4 linked regions of the Homo sapiens genome follow. The protein of the gene in region 2 interacts with the protein of the main gene of each other region in a pairwise test. Each region holds a gene or a part of one and is shown on either strand. Other genes may lie near its edges. The genes, in order: DTNB, INSYN1, WASHC3 and CCDC146.

The links.
Region 1: the proteins of INSYN1 (region 2) and DTNB interact in binary tests that used the Homo sapiens proteins (3 or more experiments, as listed by UniProt).
Region 3: the proteins of INSYN1 (region 2) and WASHC3 interact in binary tests that used the Homo sapiens proteins (3 or more experiments, as listed by UniProt).
Region 4: the proteins of INSYN1 (region 2) and CCDC146 interact in binary tests that used the Homo sapiens proteins (3 or more experiments, as listed by UniProt).

What each region holds. Positions count from the first base shown.
Region 1 is NC_000002.12:25,621,571-25,628,597, forward strand, and holds part of DTNB (dystrobrevin beta), read right to left. Parts: intron 6,815-7,027; coding exon 6,601-6,814; intron 1-6,600.
Region 2 is NC_000015.10:73,750,331-73,757,659, reverse strand, and holds the start of INSYN1 (inhibitory synaptic factor 1), read left to right. Parts: upstream 1-4,308; 5' UTR 4,309-5,550; intron 5,551-5,797; exon of another isoform or gene 5,798-5,962; 5' UTR 5,963-6,529; coding exon 6,530-6,685; intron 6,686-7,329. UniProt on the Homo sapiens protein: Component of the protein machinery at the inhibitory synapses, probably acting as a scaffold. Inhibitory synapses dampen neuronal activity through postsynaptic hyperpolarization.
Region 3 is NC_000012.12:102,037,969-102,044,995, reverse strand, and holds part of WASHC3 (WASH complex subunit 3), read left to right. Parts: intron 1-783; coding exon 784-891; intron 892-5,017; coding exon 5,018-5,128; intron 5,129-7,027. UniProt on the Homo sapiens protein: Acts as a component of the WASH core complex that functions as a nucleation-promoting factor (NPF) at the surface of endosomes, where it recruits and activates the Arp2/3 complex to induce actin polymerization, playing a key role in the fission of tubules that serve as transport intermediates during endosome sorting.
Region 4 is NC_000007.14:77,258,602-77,265,628, forward strand, and holds part of CCDC146 (coiled-coil domain-containing protein 146), read left to right. Parts: intron 1-393; coding exon 394-467; intron 468-1,407; coding exon 1,408-1,635; intron 1,636-3,519; coding exon 3,520-3,706; intron 3,707-6,754; exon of another isoform or gene 6,755-6,862; intron 6,863-7,027. UniProt on the Homo sapiens protein: Essential for sperm flagellum biogenesis and male fertility.

The sequences.
Region 1 (7,027 bases), on a different chromosome or scaffold from region 2:
CTAGGATTACAGGCATGCACCACCACCATGCCTGGCTAATTTTTTTTTTTTTTTTTTTTTTTTTTTAGTAGAGATGGGGTTTCTCCATGTTAGTCAGGCTGGTCTTGAACTCCCGACCTCAGGTGATCCGCCTGTCTCAGCCTCCCAAAGTGCTGGGATTACAGGCATGAGCCACTGCACCCAGCCTAAACCAACATTTTTAAATGGTTGTTAGCCACATTTGCAAACTACACAGGAATTTTTTCATATAACTCTATTATAAATTATATAAGTATCTTTACACCAAAGGAATCTTTCGATTGTTCAAATTAGCAAGAATGTTTTCTACTGAGTGTTATTGTAGATGGTAAACAATAACCCTAGGCCTTTAAATGATGTGTTCAATACCGTATTTTGTATTTTTTAAGATTTAGATGTATTTTACAGACTTTGTCCAAACTAGTTTCATTAGATACATCATTTTTTTTTTTTACCAGTTTATTCCATTTTTAAGGTGAAATTTCATTCTATTTCTGAACCAACACTTTTGGTAAAGGCCACAGACTCATTTGTAAAACATAAATGGATGAAATATATCAGAGGAAAAAATAAGATTCAACAGTCAGAAATAAAGTATAAGAGCAATCTGGCCGGGTGCAGTGGCTTATGGCTGTATTCAATCCCAGCACTTTGGGAGGCCAAGTCGGGTGGATCACTTGAGGCCAGGAGTTTGAGACCAGCCTAGCCAACATGGCAAAACCCCGTCTCTACTGAACATATAAAAATTAGCCAGGCGTGGTGGCGTATGCCTGTAGTCCCAAATAGGAGGATGAGGCATGAGAATCGCTTGAATCCAGGAGGTGGAGGTTGCAGTGAGCCAAGATTGTGCCACTGCACTAGAGCCTGGACGACAGAAAAATAAATAAATATATGTATTTATTTCCATCTTTGTACCTTGACTAACATACCTTTATAATGGCCAGAAATGTCATGTTCAAATTTAGAACTGTAAGGCACCCCATACTCCTACGTGGGAAGAACCTGATCCCCTTTTCTTCCCACCTCCAGCACATCCCATGCTTGAAAGGACTATGCATGCATGTGAACACTCTAGCCCACATGTCCAAGTTCTGCCCACATTCTCAGCAAACATCCACTCCTTGGCTAGTCCTTAGACACAGGGATACAACTACTTAGAAAAACAAAACAAAACAGAACAACATACACCAGGTTTGGAAGCATAAGTCCTAGAACAAATGGACCAAGAATTTAAAACTAAGAATAAACATGTTTAAAAAGACAATACGAAACAAGAACCACAAATCCCAAAAAAGAAAAATCAGATATATTACATATAGAAAATATAATAGCTAAAGAAATAACAGATGGAATAAACAGTAGGATGGCTCCAGAGGAAGAACAAATTAATGAGCAGAAAGGCAGATCAATAAACTCTTCCAAAAGGAAACAAAGTTAAAGAAATTAAACCATATGTGAGGAACACTAATAGATAAAGAGGAAAGAAGTAGAAATGCCAACAATCAGAAAACGAGAAAACAAAAACAGAGGAAATATTTGAAGAAATAATGAGCTTCTGGTAATAGCACCCTAGGTGATTCTGATCAACTCTTCCTCTGAGCAAAAAAGAAAAGATGGGGAAAGTTTTAAAAAATCTCCTTGAATATAAATTGTTGAGAACTAACAACTGAAGTTACCAAATGCAGGAGAGGCTGGATGTCCAGGGAGGTGAGTGCAATGGATGAAATCACTTTTTCCATGTAAGTGATTTGATTCCAGAGGGGGAAGCAAAATTGCTGAAGTATAGAGTAACTTTTTGATGGTACTGGGGACAAGGAGAAAGACATGGAGGCTTGGACTTGCCAAGGCAGAAGGGGTCCCTTGGCAGGACACGTGGTCCTGCTTACCCTACTCTCCTATTAGTTTGGGCTCAGAGCCCAAAGGCTTCACCTAAAGGTAATCGTGTCCAGAAGTAAACAGGTCCTCACATGTACTGATTAAGAAACTGAATTGACGTGATCCTGGATTGTTAAGGTCTCCAGGCACCTGGAAGAAGCAAACACACATCCTTTCTTGAAGAAAACATCATCCTAGGCCTCAAATTATCCCTGCAAATAATTCTGCAATATAATGTTTGGTATATAATAAAAATAATTTTGCTATATAATGTTCAGCCTATAATAAAAAATAACAAAGCAAATAGGAAATAAAACATCATTAATGAAAACCAGAAACAACAAACAGTACAAAAAGAACCACAGGAAATCTAGATATTAGATTGTAAGTGTAAACCAAAAATAAAATTCAAAGGCCCCCTGCAACCATCTGAGTGGACTCCCTCCTGGGCCAGGGCACTCTGAAATTTAACCAGAAAGACTGGTTAAGGCCATGATGGGAAGCTGGGGATGGACATGCCTCATGATACCCTCCAGTGTTAACATCAACACAGACCTTAAGTCTGAGAAGAAACATCTACAGTCTATTCTCTCTAGAGCCTACTATTTGCAGGCTTCATCTGTGTGATAAAACCTAGCTCTCCACAACTCTTTATCATAACTCTTTCAACCAACTGCCAATCAGAATATGTTTAAATCTACCTATGACCTGGAAGCTCCCTGTCCCTCTTCAAGTTGTCCCACCCTTCCAGATCAAACCAATGTAAATCTTAAGCGTATCTGATTGATGTCTCATGTCTTCCTAAAATGTATAAAAGCAAGCTGTGCTCTGACCACCTTGGGCACACATTGTCAGGACCTCCTGAGGCTGTGTCATGGGTGTCTAAAAGATGGGTACTTCTGCTCGGTGTTCAAAGAAGCCAACTCTTCCTTAACCTCAACTTCAAAGAGGAGGCATTTAGTAGAAGCTGCTCACAGGGATTTTGTGAAGTCAGCCTAAGGATGGAGCTGATACAAGAAGGGGGCAAAGCCGCGCAAAGAAATAAAGCCAGAGCTCTGATGCAACCAAGATGAGGGGCTGGCCTGCCTCTGGACCCCTCAGTTTGTCAGCCTATACACATGTTGTTATGAAAAGGCCATGTGGGTAGGCTTTTTACAGCTAAAGACACTGGACTAACACAAAGGTTGGAAATAGAAAGGGGATTTTTAAGTAACAAACCTTAAAGTGTGAAACTGGCTCAGCTATAGAAGAGTAAGGAAGACCTCCTCTATCTCATGCTGGGAATTTGGATATCGTTATTATATTGGTTAAAGCACCTTTGTTGTACCTTTGCACCAGACTGTATGACTACCAATAACATTGTACCGGAGAAACTGAGAGGAAAAAAATGCAGCTATCAGTGTTTTCACAACTCCTTGTGGCTTTCACTAAGATTCTACACCCAGGTGTTTTGTGAATATTGGTCTCTGTGCTTTTCAATGTTTTTAATTATCAAAATATAACATATTCAGAACTCTCAGTATTAAAAAAAATTAGGTCTTAAGAAAATACTTAAGGAAAAGTCTTAGATCCTATTTGTTCCTGACCGTTGTTGTAGGGTCTTATACTCTCTTATTATAATGATCAGAAATCATCTGGCCAAACACAGGGACTATAAATTTGGAGGTGAGAGAAGATTAAATAATTTTTGCTTTCAAACTTTAACCTTATGGAATTATGAAATACAAAGGCTGGAAGCCTCAATTAAAATAAATAACTAGGTTGTCTATGTATAAAAGGAACTCTCCAGCCTAAGTAATAAAGCGGCCAATCAATAAAAAGACTAACATTTGAAGTATTTAACGACAAAATGCCCTGGTTTTCAAAATTAACATTCTGATAACCAGATTCTTTCTTTTTTTCCAACACAAGAAGGTCAATTTTAAGCTTCCAGATAGCCAAATAAGCTCTATTATATAAAGGTATCAAAGTTAGTAAAGATGTGATCATTTATTCTGATACCATGGTCTATGTTTTAAACACATCAAAGTAAAAATTACCCAACTCACTAATAACATACTATACCCCTTACTCTTCTTAACTCACTCATTTTTTTTTTTTTTTTTTTTTTTTGCTAGTTATTTTCGGTGTGTGTTTCTACACATCTGCCTTCAACTGATTCACTGTCCACTTATTCTCGTCTCTCTGTATGTGTCTAGCTTTCTCGGAATATGGCCCAGGATATCCTTGTACCTTCTGCTTCTGAGTTTGGTCCTCCCATTCTCCCTTTTGCCATCTCTGCCCTCTTCCTTCCTCTCCCTTCTTTAGCCATATGCTATAACCTGAATGCCTGTGTTCCCCAAAATTCACATGTTGAAATCCTAACCCCCAAGGTACGGTATTAGAAGGTGGGACCTTCTGAAGATAATTAGGTCACGAGGGGGTCCTCATGAACGGGATTAGTGCCCTTATAAAAGAGGTTCCCGAGAACTCCTTTGCCCCTTTGTCATGTGAGGATACCACAAAAAGGTGCCGTCTAGGAGCCAGAAAGGAGGCCCTCCCCACACACAGAATCTACCTTGATCTTGAACTTCCCAGCCTCCAGAATTGTAAGAAATAAATCTGTGTTGTTTATAGAGAGTCCAGTTCATGGCATTTTGTTAGAGCAGCCCAGTAGACTAAAGCGCCATAGTATTTAACTTACTTGACATGATTATGGAATCCAAGATTTTAATCTCTGCTTGACCATTTTTAGACAGTAAGATGGTTTTAATTTCTGACTTTAAAAAATATTGTTTCTTGAGTTAATTTGTGTTGTGTGACCCATGAATTGGTTTACTGAGTGAGTCAGTGTCATGATAAGGTGCTGCTTACTTATTACAGAATAACAATTTTTACTAAGGGTTTTGAAACAAAAAGACAGTTCCTGAGCAGGAAAAAATTAACCTATGGAGTCACTAACTAAAATTACTAAAAAATGGCATTAGAATTCTGGGACTTATGACACTTACACACTCTTATTTTTAAAATTCAGATTTCTGCCGGGCACAGTGGTACACACCTGTAATGCCAGCTACTAGAGAGGCTGGGGAGGGAAGACTGTTTGAGCCCAGTAGTTAGACCAGCCTGGGAAACACAGCAAGACCCCATCTCAAAAAAATAAGTAAATTTCTTTAATAATTTTCTATTAAACGGATACAATGTCTAATCTGATAACGGCTTATAAAAATGGTGTGAATTTAGTGAGTGCTTAAATTATGACTTGGCTTTGACATTTCCATAGTGTTACCACTAATTCACAGACTCCTCCCTATTATAAGATATAACTAATAGCATTTTACAAATGTATGAACTCAAAGAAGGTCTACAGACAGCAAAAAATGAAGCAGAGACAATCCATTCAAATCAGATGGCCAAGAGTATAGCAGAAACTGGAACTCTTGGTTCACAGAACATCACCATTTAACCTCTGTACTTCCACAATCATAAATCTGTGCTTTACAATTTTGTTGTTTCATTCTTTACAATACCAACTCAATTCTCTACGAATATAAGTGCAGCAAATCATTTCCGTTTTAATTGGAGTACATTTAAATAGTTTTCTTCTTTTGTTTCAAGATCTACTAAACTATGTTCTGCAATGAAAAAATTTAAAATAGGTTCCTAGACATAAAGAGAAAATCTGTTTGGCCAGGTGTGGTGGCTCACACCTGTAATCCCAGCAGTTTGGGAAGCCAAGGTGGGCGGATCACCTGAGGTCGGGAGTTTGAGACCAGCCTGACCAACATGGAGAAACCCTGTCTCTACTAAAAATACAAAATTAGCTGGGCGTGGTGGCGCATGTCTGTAATCCCAGCTACTTGGAAGGCTGAGGCAGGAGAATCGCTTGAACCCGGGGGGTGGAGGTAGTGGTGAGCCGAGCTTGCACACCATTGCACTCCAGCCTGGGCAACAAGAGAGAAACTCCATCTCAAAAAAAAAAGAGAGAAAATCAGTTACTATAGTCCAATATTTGATGTTACAGAGTAAAGATTAGCCTTCTGAACAAACTAGGCATAGAAGAAAAAAGAAAGAGGAGACTTAGAAGTCAAATAGAAAGCCCCATAATCAAATTCAAAACTTAGTGTTTTTCATGAGCTGGAGGACAGCTGTATTAAGGTATCTATAATTTTCCCAAACAATACATCTCAAATGTGATTCTCCACAATATTCCAGAGTTTAATATATGACATACTCTAGGACAGTAAGTCACTGTGAACCAGTTTCTAGAGGGGCTTACACCGAATAATTTTCCTTTTTTTTTTTTTTTTTTAAGACAATGTCTCGCTCTGTCGCCCAGGCTGGAGTGCAGTGGTGCAATCTCTGCTCACTGCAACCTCTGCCTCCTGGGTTCAAGCAATTCTCCTGCCTCAGCCTCCTAAGTAGCTGAGACTACAGGCGCCCACCACCACGCCCGGCTAATTTTTTGTATTTTTAGTAGAGACGGGGTTTCACCGTGTTAGCCGGGATGGTCTCCATCTCCTGACCTTGTGATTTGCCCTCCTTGGCCTCCCAAAGTGCTGGGACTACAGCTGTGAGCTACCGTGCCCAGCCAATAATTTCCCTTTTAATCATGATTCTAAGTTGCCAGCTTAGCAAGGCAACTTAGCACGGCAGTATGGAAGAAGAATGATTCAGAGACAGGTGTTCTTAAAATGAAGTAAGCGTGTAAGGTAAGGTACTACTAGCCTGTCATATGCAGCAATCATAAAGTTGAGGAGGAGGCTGATAGATTGTTCCACACTAATTTGGTGAGTAGAAGGAAGGCGCTTGTTCAACTGATAGTAGATGGAGGAGATGACAGTTTCGAGGCGGGACACACTGATCTCGGTGGTATGGTCCAGTGTATTAAGGCCATTGTCTCGGAAGGCTTCAATCATGTTCCAGATATCAACAAGATGAACTAAAAGACAAAGAAAATAAACTGTCAACAATTTTAAAGTGTGGTACTACCCTTCACAATAGGAATCTAAAATTTATCAACTAGTTCTTAAGTTTAAAGAGAAGAAACTCTTTAGCCAACAATGAGGAAAACATTCTGTGGTCAAATAAAGAACATCAGTCCCAGACAACATCAAGGAGCCACCACAGCGGTATGGGAAGGACTACTTCCAGC
Region 2 (7,329 bases):
GGCAGCAGGTCCCAACCCTCTGGCTTCAGGATTTGGAGACATCTTACCCCATCTGGGAACCCAATTACTCAGTCAATCATTTAGTCAGCTCATTTAGTATTTCCTGAGTGCATCTGTCAGGCTCCAGTTGGTTACACGAGACAGAGACCCCACCAAACGAACTGGAGCAATATGAGGAATTTATCAGCTCTTAGAGATGAGTAGGATGTTGTTGCAGCTCTCCAGACTGAAAGAAGAACTGCAGGAGTGAAGGCCATGAGAACAAAAACTGGGACTCAATGCTGCTAGCATGCTCTCTAAATTCCTCTCCTCTCTGCTGCCTTGCTCAGCTTCCTAGATTGAGTGGGAAAAATGGCTTGTCAGCAGGTTTGGACCATAACATCCAGTTTTGCACCCCACTAGGAAGAGGGGTTCTTCCTCCCAGCATCCACATATCAATCCCAGGGAAAGAATCTGATTGGTCCTGCTTAGGTTATGTGCCCACCCCTTGGACCAATCACTGTTGCTGGAGGATGGGGTTCCACGGTTGGTGCAGTCTGAGTCACATGCCTAGTTAGTGGCAGTGGGATAGGGATGGGTGGGAGTAGTGGGCACTTTAACTGACAACCCACTAGGATTATGTGATGACAGCAGGGAGTTTCCCCAAGAAAAGGAATGCTAGAACTGGATGGTGGAAAACAGGCAGACAGGTAAAAATCGCTGTCTACTGTCTACTGCAGTGGTCCATGTGAGAGATGGGCAGACACACACAAGCCCATCATGAGGAGTTCACAGACTCACATGGAAATAAGGCTTACAGACATGAAGCCATGAATAAGAGCTGATAGCAGCTACCATTTACAGAGCACCTACCAGGTGCCAGGCACTGGGCCAAGTACTTCCATGTGCATTATCTTATTCCATGTTCACAGTGACCCTGGAAAGTAGTCATTATTGTCCTGATTTTTCTGAATCAGAGAGACAGTGAAATACATCCCCCCCCCTTTTTTTTTTTACAAGAGACCCAATTCAAGAAAGAATTAAAATGTTTATAGGCTGCTATCCTTGCTCAGAGAGGTTAAGTGACTTGCTCAAGGTCACACAGCTAGCACATTAAATGAATGCCCTGGGAAGCATTTGGTTAAGGGCAAAAAAAAGTGCTTCCATTTCTCTCCGTAGACTAAAGCACTAGGGAAGGCTGCCTAGAGGGTGGAGGTTGGCGGTGAATAAGCAGAGATCTAAAGGATGGGACATCTAGGCAGGTGGCCAGGGAGGTTGGGTGGAAGAAAGGATGGATCAATCCCCAAACACTAAGGAAGGCAGGTCTGAGCACCACCCAGATACTATCTATTCCCTCTCGCCTGTGGCAGCTCTTTGGAGATTTACAATCAGAGACCCCTTCTCCTGAGTCTCCTCTTCTCTAGCCTGCTCTGACCAGCCCTACCATCCTTCATAGAACATATACACCAGTCACCTCCCCTATTCTACTTGGCTGTCCTCCTATGGACACACCCAATGAATTGAGGTGCTAGGCACAGTTTGATCCACACAAATGACAGAAGAAATGTTACCTCCCTTTTTCAAAACACTGTGCTTCTATTAATGAGACCCGAGATCAATTATGTATTAAGCAGTCACAGTCCACCCTGTCCAATCAAGCTCACTGTCTCCTAACCTTGCCAGTTCAAACACATCTCCCTCATCCTGGATGAGGGCGGATGATTCCCTGGACCTAAGACTAGAAACTCTTTTTTTTCAGGCTTAGCCCATTTTTGGTCTCGGCTGTTCCTTAGCATCACTGCTTCCACAAAAGTGATTGGTGAGACTGTGTGATTCCACTTATATGAGGCACCTAGAGTAGTCAGAGTCACAGAGACAGAAGATAGAATGGTGGTTGCCAGGGGCTGGCGGGGGGAGGGGTGATGGAAAGTCACTGTGAGATGGAATAAGATAATGCATGTGGAAGTACTTGGCCCAGTGCCTGGTGCCTGGTAGGTGCTCCACAGAGAGTGGCTGCTATCAGCTCTTAATCACAGAGTTTCAGTTTGGGATGATGAAAAGGTTCTGGAGATGGGTGGTGGTGATGGTTACACAACAATGTGAATGTACTTAGTGCCACTGAACTATGCACTTACGAATGGTTAAGATGGTAGATTTTAGGCCGGGCGCAGTGGCTCACGCCTGTAATCCCAGCACTTTGGGAGGCCGAGACAGGCGGGTCACGAGGTCAGGAGATGGAGACCATCCTGGCTAACACGGTGAAACCCCGTCTCTACTAAAAACACAAAAAAATTAGCCGGGCGTGGTGGTGGGTGCCTGTAGTCCCAGCTACTTGGGAGGCTGAGGCAGGAAAATGGCATGAACCTGGGAGGCGGAGCTTGCAGTAAGCCGAGATCGCGCCACTGCACTCCAGCCTGGGTGACAGAGCGAGACTCTGTCTCAAAAAAAAAAAAAAAAAAAAGGTAGATTTTATGTTACGCATATTTTGCTACAATTTTTTAAGTGATTGGTGGGCCCTCTGGATCCACCCCATCAGAAGAACATCTCCCCAACCCAGGGCAGCTGGATTCCCACCCTCACAGCTTCTGGTTCTCCAAAGGCAACCCCTGAGCTGAATCTCAAGGAAGTAGGAGTCAGTTCCCCCAGCAGCCCCCTGTGAATACATCTCTGAGATAACTCAGAGACCAAGGAACATCATTAGCACCCACAGTACCATCACTGTCTCTGGAATTCAAGTCCCCCATGGGCCAGCCTAAAACCACCACCTAGCCCCACCTCCCTTGACCCCTCCTCTGCCTCTAGTTCAAGATCTCTGCTTCCCCGCCACTTAAACTTTTGAAAATGTCATCTGTACTCACTCCTGTTCCTCACTGTTGGGCACATAGTCCTCGATGCCCAACAGTTTGGTTCCTGTCACCTTCTACCCTCCAAAACCAATTGCCCCTGCCATGTCACCCGTGGCCTCCTGAGTACCAAGACAAATAGACACTTTCTGTTCCTTCTCTCACAGCCACTCCCTGCCGCGTTCGACACTGATGAGCACTTGCTTCTCCCAAACTCCTCCTACTGGGCCTACATAACTCTCCACTTTCTGGTTCTTCTCCTATCTTTCTAATCACTCCTCCCTCTCACTCATGGACTCTTTTCTGAGGTTCCAGCCCAGAACTACTGCTTTTGTTACTTCTACGCAGCGTCCCTGTTCATCTCACCCCTCTAATGATGGTTCAAAAAAAAAAACAAACAAAATGTTACTCTCAAGCCCCAGCCTCTCTCATGAGCATAGATTCATAGACTCCACTGTCTTCTGGCCAACGGTGAAATAGCCTCCTAACTGCTCTATCTCGGTGGCACCTCCTCACACCCACTCACAATGCCCCAGAGGGGTTTCCTGAGAAGGCAAGCAGGCCCAGGTTCCTCCCAATATCAAAGCTCCCTCCGCCCCGGGATAAAATCTAAGCTCCTAACCATGGTCTCTGAGTCTCTCTGTGGTCTGCAGTCAAAATGGTATCTAAAAGGCCCCAGTTAACTTAAACTCCCCTCCTCCCATTTCTGCTTCTGAGCCTGTGCTCCCACCCTCCTCCCTGCCTGGAATGCTGATCCCCAACCCCCCACACTGACAGTCACTCCTACTCCTCCTTTGAGATTCAGCTCAGGGGTGGCCTACCTGGCAGAACCCGCCAGGCCCTGGCCTGAACTGCACCACCCAACCCACACTTCCCTACTCCCCTGTTAACATTGCTTCCAGAATTTGCCTCTGTTGTGACTCAGGAGTGTCCCCGAGCCGTGAGCTTCCTGAAATGCTCTGGTGGCCCCGGAGCCTAGCATGGAACCTGATGCACAGAAGGCCTCTAATACATGAGTCAATTGTTGAATAGCTGAAGGAAACGATGGGTGTCCAAGACAGCCTCCAACCCCCAGCCCTGCCGACCCAGAGCTTGGCACACAGTAGGTTCTCAGGAAAGGTTGGCAGTATTCTATTTTCTGAATGAATGTGATTTCAGGCAAGGTCAGGGGCTGGGTTATGTGGGTGGTAGAAGGGAGGGTCTGGATGCGGGAAACGTGGCCAAAAGGGAAGCTTGGGGGCAGTGCAGTAGGGGAAGGGGGCAATGGGGGTGTCTGGAGAGGTGGGAAAGGAACGAAGTCCCCAGAACGCTGTCCCTCCGCGCCCCAGGTCAGCCGGCGTGGGGTCCGGTCAGTCCGCCTCCAGCCCCGCCAGCGAGACCCTTCCCCCTCGCCCGGGTGGCGAGACCCCCCTGGCTCGCACGCTTGGCCCTCGGGGTTGGGAGGCGTGTGTGTCGCTTTAAAAGCTCCCTCCCGGCGCGGCGGGCCGGCCCCTTCCCTGACAGCGCCGAGGCAAGCGGAGCCAAGCGAGCCGGGCGGCCTTTAAGGGAGCCAGCGCCCGCCCGGGCGGCCAGTCCGGCGGGGGGCGGCGGGGCGGGCCGGGGGCGGCCGGGGCGCGGGCGGCGCGGCGCCGCGGCGCTTGGGGAGCGGGCCCAGGCCCCGGGAGCCCGGCGGGGCAGGGCAGGGCGAGGCGGTGAAGGGAGGCCCAGCCCCGACCCGGCGCCTGTTTGCCCCACCGGCGGCGACCCGGCGCCCGGGGGCTGCTGAGGCGGGGAGCCGAGAGCGAACGGACGGGAGGTAGCGGAGCCGAGCGGAGGCTGCGAGCCTAGTGCGCCCCGGCCCGGCCCGGCCCGCCGCTCGCCCCCTCCCCTCCCTTCCCCTCGCCGCGCCTCCTCCCCTCGCCTCTTCTCGCCTCCTCTCCTCTCCTCCGCCCGGCGCTGCTCCCGCCTGCGCCCGGGCCGCCGAACCCAGCCCGGCCGGGGCCCCCGGCTTCGCGCGCTCTCGGCTGGGCCCGGCGGGGACCGGGTCCCCGCGGCTGACATCGCCCCTCCTCGGGGACCCGGTGGATTCCGGACCTTTCGGAACGTGAACTGAGCCGTGGGAGCGGTCTCGCCCAGGGCCGACCGCGGGGCTGGGCTGAGCAGACCCTCGCGGCCGCTCCGGACGCCGCGGGTGCCGGGGCACGGACGTTCTGGGTCCGGGCTGAGCGCGTCCCGGGCGCCCGGCGGTGCCAGCTCACTCCGGGCGGGGTAGGGCAGGGCAGACCCCAGCGGAACACGGACCCGGCCGATCTGGACTGGACAGAGCGAATCCCGGACGGTGCAGAGCCCGGGGAATGCCGGGCGTGGGCTGAGGGGATCCCGGCGCCCTCCCAGCCCTCCGACTTTGGCTCACGCGCTGGGACCTGCCCGGCGTCTCCTCGGCCTCCCCGCGCCCCGGTCACCTGTGGCCTCGGAGCCCCAAATCTGCCGGACCCTCGCTCATTCCCGACCCCGAGCCTGGAGAGGCTTGAGAAAGATTTTTCCTGCCCCCTTCCCTGGAGCGCGGAGGCCCCGCCCCCTCCCACCGCCCAGATGTCTCCGGTCACGGCTCGGAGGACCTCCCTGAGGCCCGGGGCCGAAGGGTCCAGAGAGAGAAGCCCGCCCTAGGGAGCCTTGGGGGCCCCCCAACTCCGTCTTGGGGCTTGGCCCCCGACGCTGCTTGGAGGGAAGGCCGGTGCCCCCACCCTCGGTGAGTCCAGGAGTGGGGGTTCTGAGGGAAGGCGGGGCTGGGGGAGGGAGGGTCCGCTGGGAACGAGGGCACCCTGGGGGCGCTAGGAGGGAGGATGGGTGACTGGAGAGGCCCTCTGGTGAACCAGCCTGGGCAGGCCTGGCTGGGGGGAAGGTGGGGGGGGAGGGCGGGAGCTACGGCCAGGGTGCCCCGTAGCAGGCTGAGGACTTCTGCTTCTAAAGCAGGGGCTCCCTCCCTTTCCCTCTAGAGGAGGGGCTGTGCTGTAAACCGTCTGCCTCCACCACCCCTCCCCACAAAGAAAAAAAAATCCCCAGCGAGGAAGGGTGCAGGCTGGCGAGAGGAGGGAGGCAGCGGCATTGCCGGCTGGTGCTGCAGCCTGGGAGGGCTGACGCCAGGCTCGCTCTCTCCGCAGGGGGCTGCCCTCTTCCAATCCAGCTCCCTCCCCAGAGCTGCCCATATCCGGAGCCCCTTCCACATCTGGAAGACCCTGGCCACCATCCCTCTGCAGGTGTCAGTTGCATCCAGAGACCTCTGCCTTTGCAACTGCCTAGGAGTTGTGAGGGGATCCCTGCTGCCTTCCCCCATCCCAAGGGCATCTCTTACCCTTAGTCCCTGCAGAGTCATCCCCCTGCCTCTGTGTTCAAGCTCAGGCAGAGATCAGCTCTGCACACCCACAGGCACTTCAAGACCTGGAGGCCACTCCTGGGACCCAAGGTCCCTCCCCCTCCTCTCCTGTGTCCTCACCTTGACCCCCTCTGCTAGACTCTGTCTCCCTCTGGGTGTCCCACTCTCCACCCAGAGGCAGAGGAGGCTGGGTGGCAGGGGGCAGGGGCTGGTTGAGGGCCGCCCAGGGCCAGGGTGGGCTGGGGGGCCGTTAAAATGTGGAGCTCTGCCCAGCCGAGGGGGGCTCCGTGGAGGCAGACGCAGTGTGTGCCCAGCTGGGGGGAGTATGGGCAGGCCTGCGGCCACGTGGTAAACGATGAACATTCGGGGCGCCCCGGACCTCGGGCAGCCCAGTGACGACCCCAGCAGTGGTGGTGAGCGGGAGCGGATTCGACAGCGCATGAAGATGGTCATCGGGCAGCTTGAGGGCATCCTTCGCGAGCTCAAGGAGGTGGCCAAGGAGCTGAGGGAGGTAAGTGAGGGGTGAGGAGGGACCAGACAGACCCTAAGCCAACCTTCTTGGGTTTGGCACAAAAACGTACTCATAAATACGTTGGAGTGTGCAAAGCTGCGTGCACATGTGTCACTCTACTGGGGACCTTCTTTCTCCTTGCTCTCCTTTCCGCAAATCTGCTTTGCTAAAAATCTCATCAGACCCCAAGGCTGGAGGGGCCTCGGTGTTGTAGAGGTTACTTGAGCAGCATGTCAGTGGGCCTGGAGCTCTGGGTTAGCACAAAGGGCTGCCAAGATGGCCAGTAAGGACTGAATCCCGCCACAGCTTCTTAGTGGAAGACAACCTTCTGGGACCCAAGCTGACCCTTGAACCCACCATCTGTCTCCCAGACTCTGATCTGGTCACAAGGGACCCTGGGAGAGTGCAGATAGTTGTGCTGAGGTGGTTTCCACTGCTTGAGGCCCAGCTCAAAGCATATCCCTAGAAATCACACAGATACTGAGAACCCTTGATCTTGGAAAAATTTAAGCCAGCTATGTCCTCTTTGTCCGGGGGTAAGAATGGGTCTGGGGGTGCTGTAGTGGATAACAGAGTTCCTTGCATATTTTGGCAGGGGCAGGAGTCTTCCCTAAGGGGATGCGAGTCTCCATCCCACTGTTCTA
Region 3 (7,027 bases), on a different chromosome or scaffold from region 2:
ACCATATGGACAAGTTAACCTTAGTTATTTCCATGGCCATAGAGTCATCCCCAAAGTTAGCCAAACATCGACAAATGCGTGTCATTGATATCAGGATGAACTCAGAAAAGAAGGTTTGTATGGGTCTCGCAGATCTAACCTGAAATGCTTAACTATTTCATAGTGAAAGCTAAACCATTTCAGGTTGAAATACCAACAATATGCCCATTTTTTTGCATAGAAGAAACATATTTTAATAACATTCAGTGGTGAATGTTCAAAGAAAGAAAAAAGAATGAGCTGTGTCACACATTAAAGTGTAAAGACAAGAGTTTTGTCATATCCTAGATAATTGAAACTCAAAATTTGCACAAAGCCCTTTTTTTTCGAAGTATTATCAATAGAAATATTTTTACAACAACTTTTCTAGGTACATGTTCTTATCTCCACTTTACAGGTGAGATAATTGAGACACAGGGAGTTTTACACAAGATCACACAGCTTGTGAGTGGTAGAGCTAAAAGTTAAACCTGACAGTCTGACTTCAAAGACCAGGCTCTCAGTCCTTACACTAGGATTGTCTATATTTTGAAAATGATGGTTATGTAAACTAAATTAGATTTTTGAGAAGTTCTTCAAAAGAATTTGTGACCGTCTTTCACTTTTAGTTTATGACATGGAAAATTAAAGACAAGATATTGTGAACCTATTTGTATAGCCTTAAAACTTAAGACAGCTATTAAAAATAGTGTTTATTTATGCAAGTACTATCTTCATATTCCAATACTAATTTTCTTTTCTCAGTTGTCATCTATCCCAGGCCTAGATGATGTCACAGTTGAAGTATCTCCTTTAAATGTCACCAGTGTCACAAATGGAGCACATCCTGAAGCCACTTCAGAGCAACCACAGGTAAGTGAGTTCTAAGAAACGAGCAGATGTTCTTGGTTGAAACTGATAGTGTTAAGCAGCAGGTTGGAAGGAAGAAAAATAAACATGTAAAACTTCTAATAGTAAAATTTTAAAACCTTAACATAGAAAATGAAGTTTGGGAAAAACAAATTAGCTGTGTTATTTTGAAGGGCTTCCTGAAGTTAATACTTTCTTTGCCTGTAAAAAAGAAAATCAGTCTATATAGGACTAGGAAAAAGCTTCAAATAATTATTTTCTTCAAAATAATTAGAAATTTTTCTAGGTTCTTAGAAGAAATGTACTTTTAAAATATTTTATTGTAAAATTTTTAAACATACACAAAAATAGACCTGGATTCACCAGTTTTCACAATTGCTTCATCTATTTTTTTGGTCACTTGCTGAAATTAATTCCAGACATCTTGTCATCTCACCCTGCATAAATTTTTGAGCATCTCTGAAAAGTTTTGACATTTTCTTTTGTAACATTTGCTTATATAAATGCCTTTATCATATACAGTGTAATTAACAATAATTGGCCAGGTGCAGTCACTCAGGCCTGTAATCCCAACACTTTGGGAGGCTGAGGCAGGTGGATTGCTTGAGCTCAGGAGTTCGAGATCAGCCTGGGCAACATGGTAAAACCCTATCTCCACTAAAAATACAAAAATTAGCCAGGTGTGGTGGCACGCACCTGTGGTCTCACTACTCGGGAGGCTGAGGTGGGAGGATCACTTGAGCCCACGAGGCAGAGGTTGCAGTGAACCGAGATTACACTACTGCACTCCAGCCTAGGTGACAGCGCAAGTCCCTGCCTCAAAAATAAAAAATAAATAAATAAATAAAACATTCTCTGGTATTGTCTAACCCCTTGTTACTCAAGTACACGCCATGGACCAACCACATGGGCATCACCTGGCAGCTTGTTAGAATGAAGCATCTCAGGCTCCACCCCAAAACTGCTGATGAGAATCTACATTTTAACAAGACCCCTAGGTGATCTGTAGGCTCTTAAAATTTGAGAGCTACTGATCTTAGAAATACCAGTGTGTTTTTGAAGATGATTCGTTTGAATCAGCATCCCAGTAAAAGCTATACTTTACATTTGGCTCTTAGATCTTAACATTTACTTATGCTTCTGTATGAATTTAAATTTTCTATTACTTTTTATTTCAAAAAATAAAAATTCTTTGTTGTTTGAGAACAATCTCTAGTGTATCTCAGCGAGGTATTAAAATCTAAAACAAAGTAATCATCAAAATGGTGGCCTACCAAAGTAATAATAATAAACAAATAAAACAAACAGATTTATAAATGGAATTCTGCCTTTGTACCTGGAGGCACTTTTCACAGGATATTTTTTAGATCACGATGATGTTGACAGTGATGATAACAGCTAACACTTCAAGAGTGCTTTCTGTGTACCAAGGCATGCACGTTTCTAAGTGCCTTTCATAAACTAATTTAATCTTTACAACAGCCCTATAATGTAAGCACCATATTATCAATCTTAGTTTATAGATGGGTCAAATGAGGTATATAGAGGTTAAGTAACTTGCTGAAGGTCGAAAAGTAACGTAAGAGCTAGAATTTTAACCCAGACAGTCTGGTGCCAAGAGCCCTAGCACTTACCTGCTTCACTACACTATACTACACTACACTACACTGTTTTCAGTACCTGTATTCAATTTATTTAAACATATTGAGGATGCGTGGTATGAGGCCCTGTAGAAAGAGCCATATATTTAGAATATAGTATATATTTGGGTAATAAATTAGATGATCATTTACTTAATTAGATATTATAAAATTTAACATCCATTTATTTAATATAGCAAATTTCATTATGGCCACTCAAATATATAAAATGTGCAAGAGGATATCCAGATGTTGTAGAGGAGTTTAACTTTACATTCTCTCAATTAAATATGACTATCCTCTTTCTAAAATAAAGCGTCTATAAAGAATATTAAGAAAATATTTCCACACTACCTAGTAGTTATTATGTGGTAGATAGAGCTGTCATATATTTCTGTAAGATTTTTAAGTATACCTGTCTAACTTTGATTATTAATTTTTCCAGGTGCTATTATGAATGCCATCTATAATATGCCCTTTAAAATTCTTATGCAGTTGTGTTTGTCCTCACATATTTAATGTCCCAAAAATTGATTACCAGTAATCACAGCTGAATTTCTTAATTTGCTTTGCAAATTCAGAATAACCTGGTATATCTCTGGCAATTTTATTTAAAAATTGTATATGTATTTATTTAGAGGGTTTATGAAGTTCTGTTGGCTTCCAAAGTTTGAAATACTGTGATAAAATTGTGTGTTGATTAGCTTAATAAAATAACTGCTCAGCATGTTCTTAATATTCACATCAACTTCTCATTTATTCATTGTTATTAATTGGTATATTTTATACAAAATATTTTGAAGTGGGCTTAAGTATTGCTTAATCCAGAGTTTTCATTGACATTATAGTCAACTCACTTATCAGACAAAGGAGAATAATGCACTTTTTAAAAAAATCATCTGTTTATCACTCTCTCTAATCTATACATGAGTCAAAGACCCAAGGTTTGTGTACTGATTTTTCTGCAACTTTAATTTCATGGTTCAGATTTCATCATTATTCACAATAGAATATCCAATTGTGCAGAGTGAGATTGATTTGAGAATAAATGAAGGACAGTTGAGAGATATGATAGAGGATTTAATGGGTCATTCAAATAGCAAAGGTGTAATACATTTCATAATTAAACCTTGTTGAGGTCTTGGTTATTAGGCAAAAGTTAACGACTGAGAATTGATATCTGGCCAGGATGTAGTTCATTTGCACCATTTTGCTATTATATGAGTTTAATTTCCATAAATTGTTAAAAAACATACTTGGTTATTGTTTTAATTTTTTATTTAATTAACAGTGTTTTGGAATTTTTGTATTTGTATTATAGATGAATATGTGTGTGTGTGTGTGTATATATATGTATATATATATACTCACTTTGGTAAAACTTAGCAATATCATGTAACAGAAGAAACCTAAAGGATTTTTGGATGTTTATTTGCTTTGTAGTTTTTGACAGATTTAATTTATATTTGAATTATCTGAGGAAAAACTTCAATATGTAATTCACATTCATAGTCTAAAGACTATGAAGATATAAAGATATTGATTTATCTACATTTCAGAATGAACAATAGACATAAAATTGATTTCTTCTAAGGAAATTCTTTTAATGCTTATATACAGATAATGAGAGAGATTCACCAAAGTAAGCTTTTTCTAAATGTTTGGTTTGATAGAAAAATCAAGTACTGTATACAGGCAGTTCTATCTAGTTTTGCATTTAAGCAAGGATATGGTTCTCATATGCACAAGTTTCAGTAACATGGTACCATGCAAAATGAAGACTGCCTGTATAACAATAGCATTTTTATCTAAAAAGACCATTCCCCAGTATTCTTTATTGTAAGTCATATTTAGTATGACATTATGACTTTTAACCACTCTGTAGACAATGTTACCATTAATAGTTCCATCAGTATCTGAAATGTATAAAACCAGATAATTTTGTCTGACAAACTGGCTTCTCTTTTACAACTTCTCCAAAAATTGCTTTCTAAAAGTTAGAAGAGCCATGTCCACTTAGAATAAAATGATTTAATAAATAAAGGGCTCAATTAGGTAGATTCTAGATACCTAGGAAATCAATTCATCATTATCTCAATAAATTTATTATTAATTTGTAAACAGTTGATAGTTTTATTAGCTTTCTTAAAAGTTTTGTTAAAATAGTATCACCACCTATATATAATTCATGCTTTGTATCAGCACTCTGGGGACAAGTAAAGCAGAATTTTTATTTTAATGCATGAATATACTTGCATTTTAAGGAACCAATATAGTGTTGAAATGTAACCTTCTCTGAAATGATATTTAAATATTTGTAGATATTTGGAAACATATCTCATATTAAATTATTGGTATTTAAATTGGGGGAGATGATTTTTTTCTGCAATTTACTGCCTTAGAATTATGGAAAGAAACATTCCTTTTAAGTAACATGATAGACCCCTTTTGTAAATTGTCTAAAGATTTACACCAAATACTCTCTACAGCAGAACAGTACACAAGACTCTGGACTACAGGAAAGTGAAGTATCAGCAGAAAATATCTTAACTGTAGCCAAGGATCCAAGATATGCCAGATATCTCAAAATGGTTCAAGTGGTAAGCTAACTTGGTCTGTCTTCTTTGTGTAGCAGCCTCACTTGAAATTCTTAACCCTGGAGGTTTTACTGTTATTTTTTTCAATCTGAGAAAACTGCTAAACCAAGTAACCAAGTTTTCTATTCTCTTACTTCCTTTCTATTTTAATTCTCTGATTAAAAAAAAAAAAGGAAGTCAAATCTTTAGAATTGATCCCACACTTTAAATTAACATAGTTTAATATAGATTTATGTACATTTTTTTGCATTACACAAAGTTATCAATGCAAATCTTAGATACAGAAAGTAATGAAAGTAGACTATTCATTTGGTAAATCAGTTGACTCTAGCTTAATCCCCATATTATTAGCACAAATAATATTTTTTAAAAATTTTTATGTTTATCAATGATCTCTTGGCCATGTGTAATGCTTTTAATATTATATGACTTCAGAATTCATATTTTTCCTGAGAAATCATAACATGCTGTGGTACCAAAAATATCTGCAGTTGTCTGTGATAGCAGAAGCTAACATTTTTTTATTCCTTTAGAAAGTATTTCAGTAGTTGAAAGAGGTAGTTGTCCATCATTTTTCTGTTAATCAAACAGTTAAAGCCTGGCGCAGTGACACACACCTCTAATCCTAGCACTTTGGGAGGCTGAGGTGGGAGGATGACTTGAAGACAGGAGTTTGAGACCAGCCTGGGCAACAAAGCAAGACCACCTACTTCTACATTAAAAAAAAAAAAAAAAAAAAAAACCTAACTCCATATGATGGCATGCACCTGGTAGTGCCAGCTACTCAAGAGGCTGAGGTGGGAGGATTGCTTGAGCCCAAGAGTTCAAGGGTGCAGTGGCTCACCTCACTGATTGTGCCACTGTACTTCAGCGTAGGTGACAGAGCAAGACCCTGTCTCAAAAAATAATAATAATAATAATAATGCTTTTGTAAAATTATATTATCAAGCAAAAGAAGCACAATACTAATACTAAAGGACAGTTTTGTTTTGCTGTCCATGGGATAGTTTATCACCTAGTAATTTAAAAGCAAATTCTGACAACCAGAAAGAGTAGATTGGCTCATTTGGAAGCTGCACTTTTCCTAGCTATCAGAAGTGGATTTTTCACTTCCACAGTTCTTTTTTTCTGAAGCCTAGAGCTCAGGATATTGGCGGTCAATTTAGAAAAAAATAAACCAGACTTTGGGATGAAAATAGATGAAGTTTTTTTAATTAACAAGAATAAAACAAAGCCAGTTTAAGTATGAATCATGATGAACACGTTTTTAAAGCTAGAACCCAGGAAAGCCTAAGCTTAAAAGATAGACTTGTTAAAAAACAACAACAACAACAACAACAACAAAAACTATTTCACTCTTTTAAACAAAAGGGAGATGCTTCTAAATGACTCAGAAAGATTTTTTATGTTAGCCCCTTCTTGCCAAACCTATATAAAATAACAAACAGGAAAATCTACTAGGTGATACTCTGTAAAAATGCCCTGAAATCTTTATGAAGGCTGCATCTTAGGATAACTGTTAAATTCTTGATAATTGTCTTCAATTTTATAAGAACTTCAAAAAATCTTTTTCTTTTTAAATCCACCATCTGTTTATTTCACAAATATTTATCAAACACTTACTTGAAGCTAAGCTACTGTATTAGGTATTATCTAGATTTATTTAGCCAACTAAGGTTTCCAGATACCACTTGCAATTTTTATTTTTGTTACTAATTACGTCAACAAGTTCAATTGCTTTTCAGTCATAAATATACATATAAAATAAATGACCCGGGCCGGGCATGGTGGCTCACTCCTGTAATCCCAGCACTTTGGGAGGCCGAGGCGGGCGGATCACTTGAGGTCGGGAGTTTGAGACCAACCTGACCAACATGGAGAAACCTTGTCTCTACTAAAAAT
Region 4 (7,027 bases), on a different chromosome or scaffold from region 2:
AAAGTGTCCTGAGAATGTAGGCTAGGCTAAGCTATGATTTCAGTAGGTTAGGTGTATTAAATGCATTTTCAACTTAAGGTAGTTTCAACTTACAACGGGTTTATTGGGACGTCACTCCATTGTATGTGGAGGAGCATCTGTACCTCCATAAAGGGAATCTGGGCAGAGGACCAACAGTATTTGCTACACTCAGTTACCTCCTCTTCAAAATGATAACAAATATAGCTCTCTTACAAGGTCACCGTGAGTATTAAATGGGATAATTAAAGCACACAGGGCAGATGGTAAGTATCTACATATTGTAGTTCCTTTCTCTCTCATATTTAATTTTCTTGTCTTAATTGCTTCTAGCCGAAGACCGCATAATTTAACATGATTTCGTTTCTTTACTAGGATGAAGTGGCCCACCATCAAACCATTCCAGTACAAATTGGAAAAGAGATAGAAAAAATAACACGCAAAAAAGTGTATGATTTAATATTTTTACTTTGAATCCCTGCCAGTCCAAGTTATGTGTGCACACTAGAACAAGAGTACTAACCATTGGACACATTAAATTACTATGATAATTTTAGAAATTTCTGCTTTGGGCCCTGTCTAGGTTGTTTATATCAAGTTCTTTAAAAGAAAGTAATGCACCAAATTTCTATCATTCATAGTATTTATGGCTTAATTATGGGTCAAGATTCTGTTGCCAATTTATAAATCATATTTTTATGGAGAAGTTCAATTGACTTTAACAGAGCGGTGCATGGGATAAATTATGCGAACTGGTTAGAATTTCATAGTCTAGAAGTATATCAGCCAGGCAGCAGCCCAAAGCCCAAATAATAGTAACTCCCCACTTTGCCACCCATTCATGTGTATAACACTCCTCAGATATTCAGAGTAGATTGGGAGGCAGAGGTCATTGAGGAAATTCTCAGTGTTTAAGGAACCAAAAAAGATAAAGATTTTAAGTGAAGATACAAAAATTCTGGAAAAATAATATAATTACTCTGGTGACTAATCTTAAGGGGAAAAATTAGGCAGGCACTAGTAACTGTTCTAAAAACTAAGCTCACCAACATCAAAGTTGAGAAACTCAGGTCAGTTTCAGGAGGCTGGTCAGGACGAGGGTTGAATCACAGGAGATGGTAGCAAATTGGGATCTGCACAGAAAGTAGGGAGGCTGGGCAAATTCCTGCCTTCCGTGGCACTCAGTGGAGATACCCTCCAAGTCCCACCCATCTGTGGTCTTTACCCACTGCTGAGATCATTGAATTTATGACTATCTCTTCTGCTGCATGGTTAGAAAGCAAGAATAGGTAAAGCCAGCATGGCCTCAAAATAAGGCAAGTGTGTGTGTGTGTGTGTGTGTGTGTGTGTGTGTGTGTGTGTGTGTGTGTGTGTGTGTATCCCCTACAGAGAAATGGAAAAGAAAAAAATTGTCTTGGAACAAGAAGTCAAAACGCTAAATGACTCCCTAAAGAAAGTTGAAAACAAGGTTAGTGCTATAGTGGATGAGAAGGAAAATGTAATAAAGGAAGTTGAAGGCAAACGAGCCTTACTTGAAATCAAAGAACGAGAACATAACCAATTGGTCAAGCTATTGGAATTAGCCAGAGAGAATGAAGCAACTTCATTAACTGAAAGGTTAGTTATATTTATGTATGTTATGTTCTGTCATCTAAATTTTTCTTCAATTTATATTTGAGAATTCAAAATCTCACTTTGGTGTTGAGTTAATAAATATTTAAAAATAATTTTAAATCAACTTTTACCCTTAATATATTATCAAATAAAGCACTTTGAAGTATTTTTTGATACTTTACTCAAATTTTCTCAATTTTCTGTTACCAGATTTTCAGGATATAATCTGTTGTATGTTGTAAGTTTCTGAATGTGCCTTTGGAAAATTTATCACTGGAGTATGTTATGTTCAGGGATTTTGCCAACAAATGAATGATACTTCTTAGGCCATCTTGACTTTTTTCTAACAGAAGCAATTTCGTGGTGTAATTCCCTAGGAGAGTTTTATGTCCTGCTTTTTTGTTTGTTTTTTGAGATGGAGTCTTGCTCTGTCGCCAGGCTGGAGTGCAGTGGCACGATCTTGGCTCACTGCAACCTCTGCCTCCCGGGTTCAAGTGATTCTCCTGCCTCAGCCTCCCGAGTAGTTGGGACTACATGTGCGCACCACCACGCCCGGCTAATTTTTTTTTTTCTTCTCATTAGAGACAGGGTATCACCATGTTGGCCAGGTGGTCTCGATCTCTTGACCTCGTGATCCACCCGCTTTGGCCTCCCAAAGTGCTGGGATTACAGGCATGAGCCACCGCGCCCAGCCTATGTCCTGCTTTTAAGTAAAATTTCAAGGAAACTGGAGGCTTCTATCTCTGCCAGTCTGTTATTTTTTTGGGGGGTGGGGGTTATAAGACTGCAGTTCTAAATGATACCAACTCACAAACCTAGTTGCCTTTGGCATTATTTACAATTTATGATTCCAACATGAGAATAGTCATGTGTGTATATACTGAGCATGCTGTCTTTTATTAAACTTTTAAGTTCAAGGTTACACATACAGGTTTGTTATAGGTAAACTTGTGTCATGGGGGGTTGTTGTACAGATTATTTTGTTATCCAAGTATTAAGCCTAGTACCTATTATTTTTCCTGATTCTCTCCCTCCTCCCATCCTCTACCCTCCAAAAGGCTCCAGTGTGTGTTGTTCTTCTCTATGTGTCCATGTATCCTCATCATTTTGCTCCCACTTATAAGTGAGAACATGTGATATTTGGTTTTCTGTCCCTGCATTGGTTTGCTAAGGATAATGACCTCCAGCTCCACCCACGTTCCTGCAAAGGATATGATCTCATTCTTTTTATTTTATTTTTTATTTTTTATTTTTTGAGACGGAGTCTCGCTCTGTCGCCCAGGCCGGACTGCGGACTGCAGTGGCGCAATCTCGGCTCACTGCAAGCTCCGCTTCCCGGGTTCACGCCATTCTCCTGCCTCAGCCTCCCGAGTAGCTGGGACTACAGGCGCCCGCCACCGCGCCCGGCTAATTTTTTGTATTTTTAGTAGAGACGGGGTTTCACCGTGTTAGCCAGGATGGTCTCGATCTCCTGACCTCATGATCCACCCACCTCGGCCTCCCAAAGTGCTGGGATTACAGGCGTGAGCCACCGCGCCCAGCCCTCATTCTTTTTTATGGCTGCATAATAGTCTGTGGCATATGTACCACATTTTCTTTATCTGGTCTACCATTGATGGGCATTTAGGTTGGTTCTATGTCTTTGCTATTGTGAATAGCACTGTGATGAGCAAATGTGTGCATGTGTCTTTAGGATATAACAGTTTATATTCCTTTGAGTATATACCCAGTAATAGGATTGCTGGGTCAAACGGTAGTTCTGTTTTTAGGTCTTTGCCAGAAGAGATTGGGAGCCAATATTCAGCATGCTGTCTTGATAAGTTTTGAAAAACATTTAGGACAGCTGATAACAAAATCATTTTCTTCTTCTTCCTTTACCTGGAACAGAGGGATCTTGGATCTCAATTTACGCAACAGTCTCATTGACAAGCAGAACTACCATGATGAACTTTCTCGTAAGCAAAGAGAGAAAGAACGAGATTTTCGAAATTTAAGAAAGATGGAACTGCTCTTGAAAGTGTCCTGGGATGCACTTAGGCAAACTCAAGCACTGCATCAAAGGCTTCTATTAGAGGTGAGGGCTGTAAACTACCATCTGATTTTTAAGCTCGGTGCTAACTTTTGAAGTAAAAATATTTTAGGAAGTTGTTTTTGCTGCCAGTAGAGAAGAAGAAAATACAAGTAACAGAGAAAAGGTAATTTTCAAATGCGTCAAGCCTATTATGAAATCTATAGTCCTATAATGTTTCGTAATCTCATTTTTCTAACCCAAGATTAGAGAAATGTCTTGTTTGGATCAGTCATCCTTCAGCCTGACCTGGGGAAATGACTGGACTATCCAGTTCTAGAAGAGCTAGAGGGTTCACTGCAGAATGGGGCCAAGTGGATCATTATTTTCACCAGTTGAAGGAGTCAGATCCGGCATGGTGTCATGGCAGACTATAACAGTGAAGGACTAGATCAAATTACATAGACATAAATGATCAGCAGCCTGCACTTCCGACTAGCCAAGGGCAATCCAGAACCCAATATCAGGCTGCCTGGCTAATTCTGTGCAGGGTCAGAGGTGTACTCCAGTCAGAAGATGCTCAAGACAACTGTTACCTGCCTCTGTGTTCCCAAGTGAGGGGTCTGGTTGCCCCTGGCTCTCTTTTCTCTCAGAGGGCACTCCCTGTGGTAAATGACCAAGCGCCACTGAAAGGGCAGAGGATCCTTGAGAGGGCTTCAGCCTTGTGCTAGAGCCTTCCTTGAGCGAAAAAGGGGTCAGCCTCTGAGATGAAGCAGCTAGGTGTATAGAAACCTTCCCCGTTCTCTTCAGGACTGTCATGCTCCAGAACCTTATGGAGGGTCATGACCTAAGAAATTTGAACAGGAGTTTCCAGCTGTGGTAGACACCTCTGATCCTAACCTATGCCTAGTTCTCCTCTCCTCCTGGGCACATAGAAAGTTTATACTTCCTTGCACCCTTTGCAGTTGAGCAGAGTCATATAACTCATTCTGGCCAGAGGATTGTAGACAAAAGTGACACGTGTCACTTCCAGCCTATAACATCTAATTGCCAATGTGAGACCCTCTAGCTGTTTTTCCCTCTCCTGTGGTAATTGTGGAAGTGCATGACACCATGGAGGTGCTGTAAAATGGGAGCAGCCGGGAATGCTGAGCCAACAGTGGTCTCAGAGTCCTCTTGATTGCCCACCGGCTTTGTAGGAAACAGCTTTGGTAGTTCGAAGCCATGATATTTGGAGGTCGTTTATTTCTGTAGCATAACTTAGCCTGTCCTGACTGAAAGACCAACCTTAAGCAACATGTGTGAAAAAATCGGTTAGGGTTATGAGTGTTACGAACAACTAGGACTTGGACTTCGTCTTGCTGTCAGATGGCACTTATAATCTTTTCAAGAAGTTCTCTGGTTGGGCACAGTGGCTGCTGCCTGTAATCCCAGCACTTTGGGAGGCCGAGGTCGGCAGATCACCTGAGGTCAGAAGTTCAAGACCAGCCTGGCCAACATGGTGAAACCCTGTCTCTACTAAAAATACAAAAATTGGTCGGGTGTGCTGGTGCACACCCATGATCCCAGCTACTTGGGAGGCTGAGGCAGGAGAATCGCTTGAACCCGGGAGGCGGAGGTTGCAGTGAGCTGAGGTTGTGCCACTGCACTCCAGCCTGGGCAACAGAGCCAGACTCCATCTCAAACAAAAAAAGGAAGTTTTCTATCTCAGTGAGGCAAAATGTACTTTTATAGTCTTTTGCAAAACCAATAAAACATGTATGTTCTACTATATATGTGTTTTCACAAATAACTTTTATATAACTGTTATATATAGTATATTTATGATATATATACTTCTTATTTAATCATTTTATTGCAATTCCAACAGGTAGATTTATTTGTATCACTCTGAAATCTCTTTAACTCTAGTAGTACTTTTTGCCTTAAAATATTATTTTGTCTGATTTTAGAATAATAACATCAGTTACACTATCTTTTGGCGTGTTAGATTCTGCATGGTATTATTTACTTTGATTTTTTTTTCTTTTTCTTTTTGGAGACAGTCTTGCTTTGCTGCCCAGGCTGAAGTGCAGGCACCATCTCAGCTCACTGCAATCTCCACCTCCCGGGTTTAAGCAATTCTCGTACTTCAGCCTCCCAAGAAGCTGGGATTACAGGCATGTGCCACCAATACACAGCTAATTTTTGTATTTTTAGTAGAGACAGGCTTTCACTATGTTCGCCAGGCTGGTCTCAAACTCCTGACCTCAAGTGATCCATCTGCCTCGGCCTCCCCAAAGTGCTGGGATTACAGGTGCGAGCCACCGCACCCAGCCCTATTTACCGTCACTCTTTCTGTGTCCTCATTTTGGTGTGTCTCATATACACAGCACATACTTTTCAAAATCTAGTCTGATAAGTTCTGCCTTTTTAAATTCTTGTATTTAGTCTAAAAATTAATACTTAATGTAATTGTGGATATATTTGTCCTTATTCTGTGATATTACTTTTGCTTTCTCTGTATCCCATCCGCTTCATGTTCCATTTTCTCTCCCACATTTCCTTCCTTGGGATTAATCAACGTTTCATATAGTTCTGCTATCCTTGTTTTAGATATGCATCAGTTAGTTTTACATTCTATTTCTATTCTTTGGGTGGTTACCCTGAAGATTACAACAGTCATCTTTGACTTACTAGAGTCAAATATAAGTTATTTGTATTTTTACTACTTCCAAGACAGTGCTAATACCTTTGATGATTTTAACTTTACTAACCTTTGCAACTCTTATGCCCTCAAACATATTTTCACTCCAACTTTCCAAGTTATTCTTGTTGGAAGCATTGGTTTACTATAAGCTACTCCATCTTAGCCCGAAGCACAGCACGTTAGGATGTTAAATTGGAACTTTGGGCAAACACAGACCCTGTGGCCACCCCTCCTCAGTCATAGTAAGATTTATAGTAGACCGCAGTTATAATGTCCATTCAAAGTACTGACGGAAACCTCAGTGTAATGAGTAAGACTCTTAAAACCAGCAAGTGTTGCTTGTACTAATAAAACAATTCCTGTTTATTGATCAAATAACTGTTCAGTAAGATTTCTTTAAACAATGGGATAAAATGTATAATTACCTTTAATAACCAATTTTGGTAGTTATGGTAGTAAGTAAAGTTAATCCATTCAATATGCTTCTAATGCTGAATCATCAAAGCATTCTTAATATTGAAGAGTAAGGTAACCTAAATAGAAGCAATAATTTGTCTCATAAATTAATACTTCTTAGCTCAAGAAGGGTTATACATTGGTAAAAATCACAAGATTGGTTCTAAAAGACTACACACAAAAAAACAGACTTAGGTTCACTTCTACCAGAAAATCTAGATTAAGTACCATAGAAGGGACAC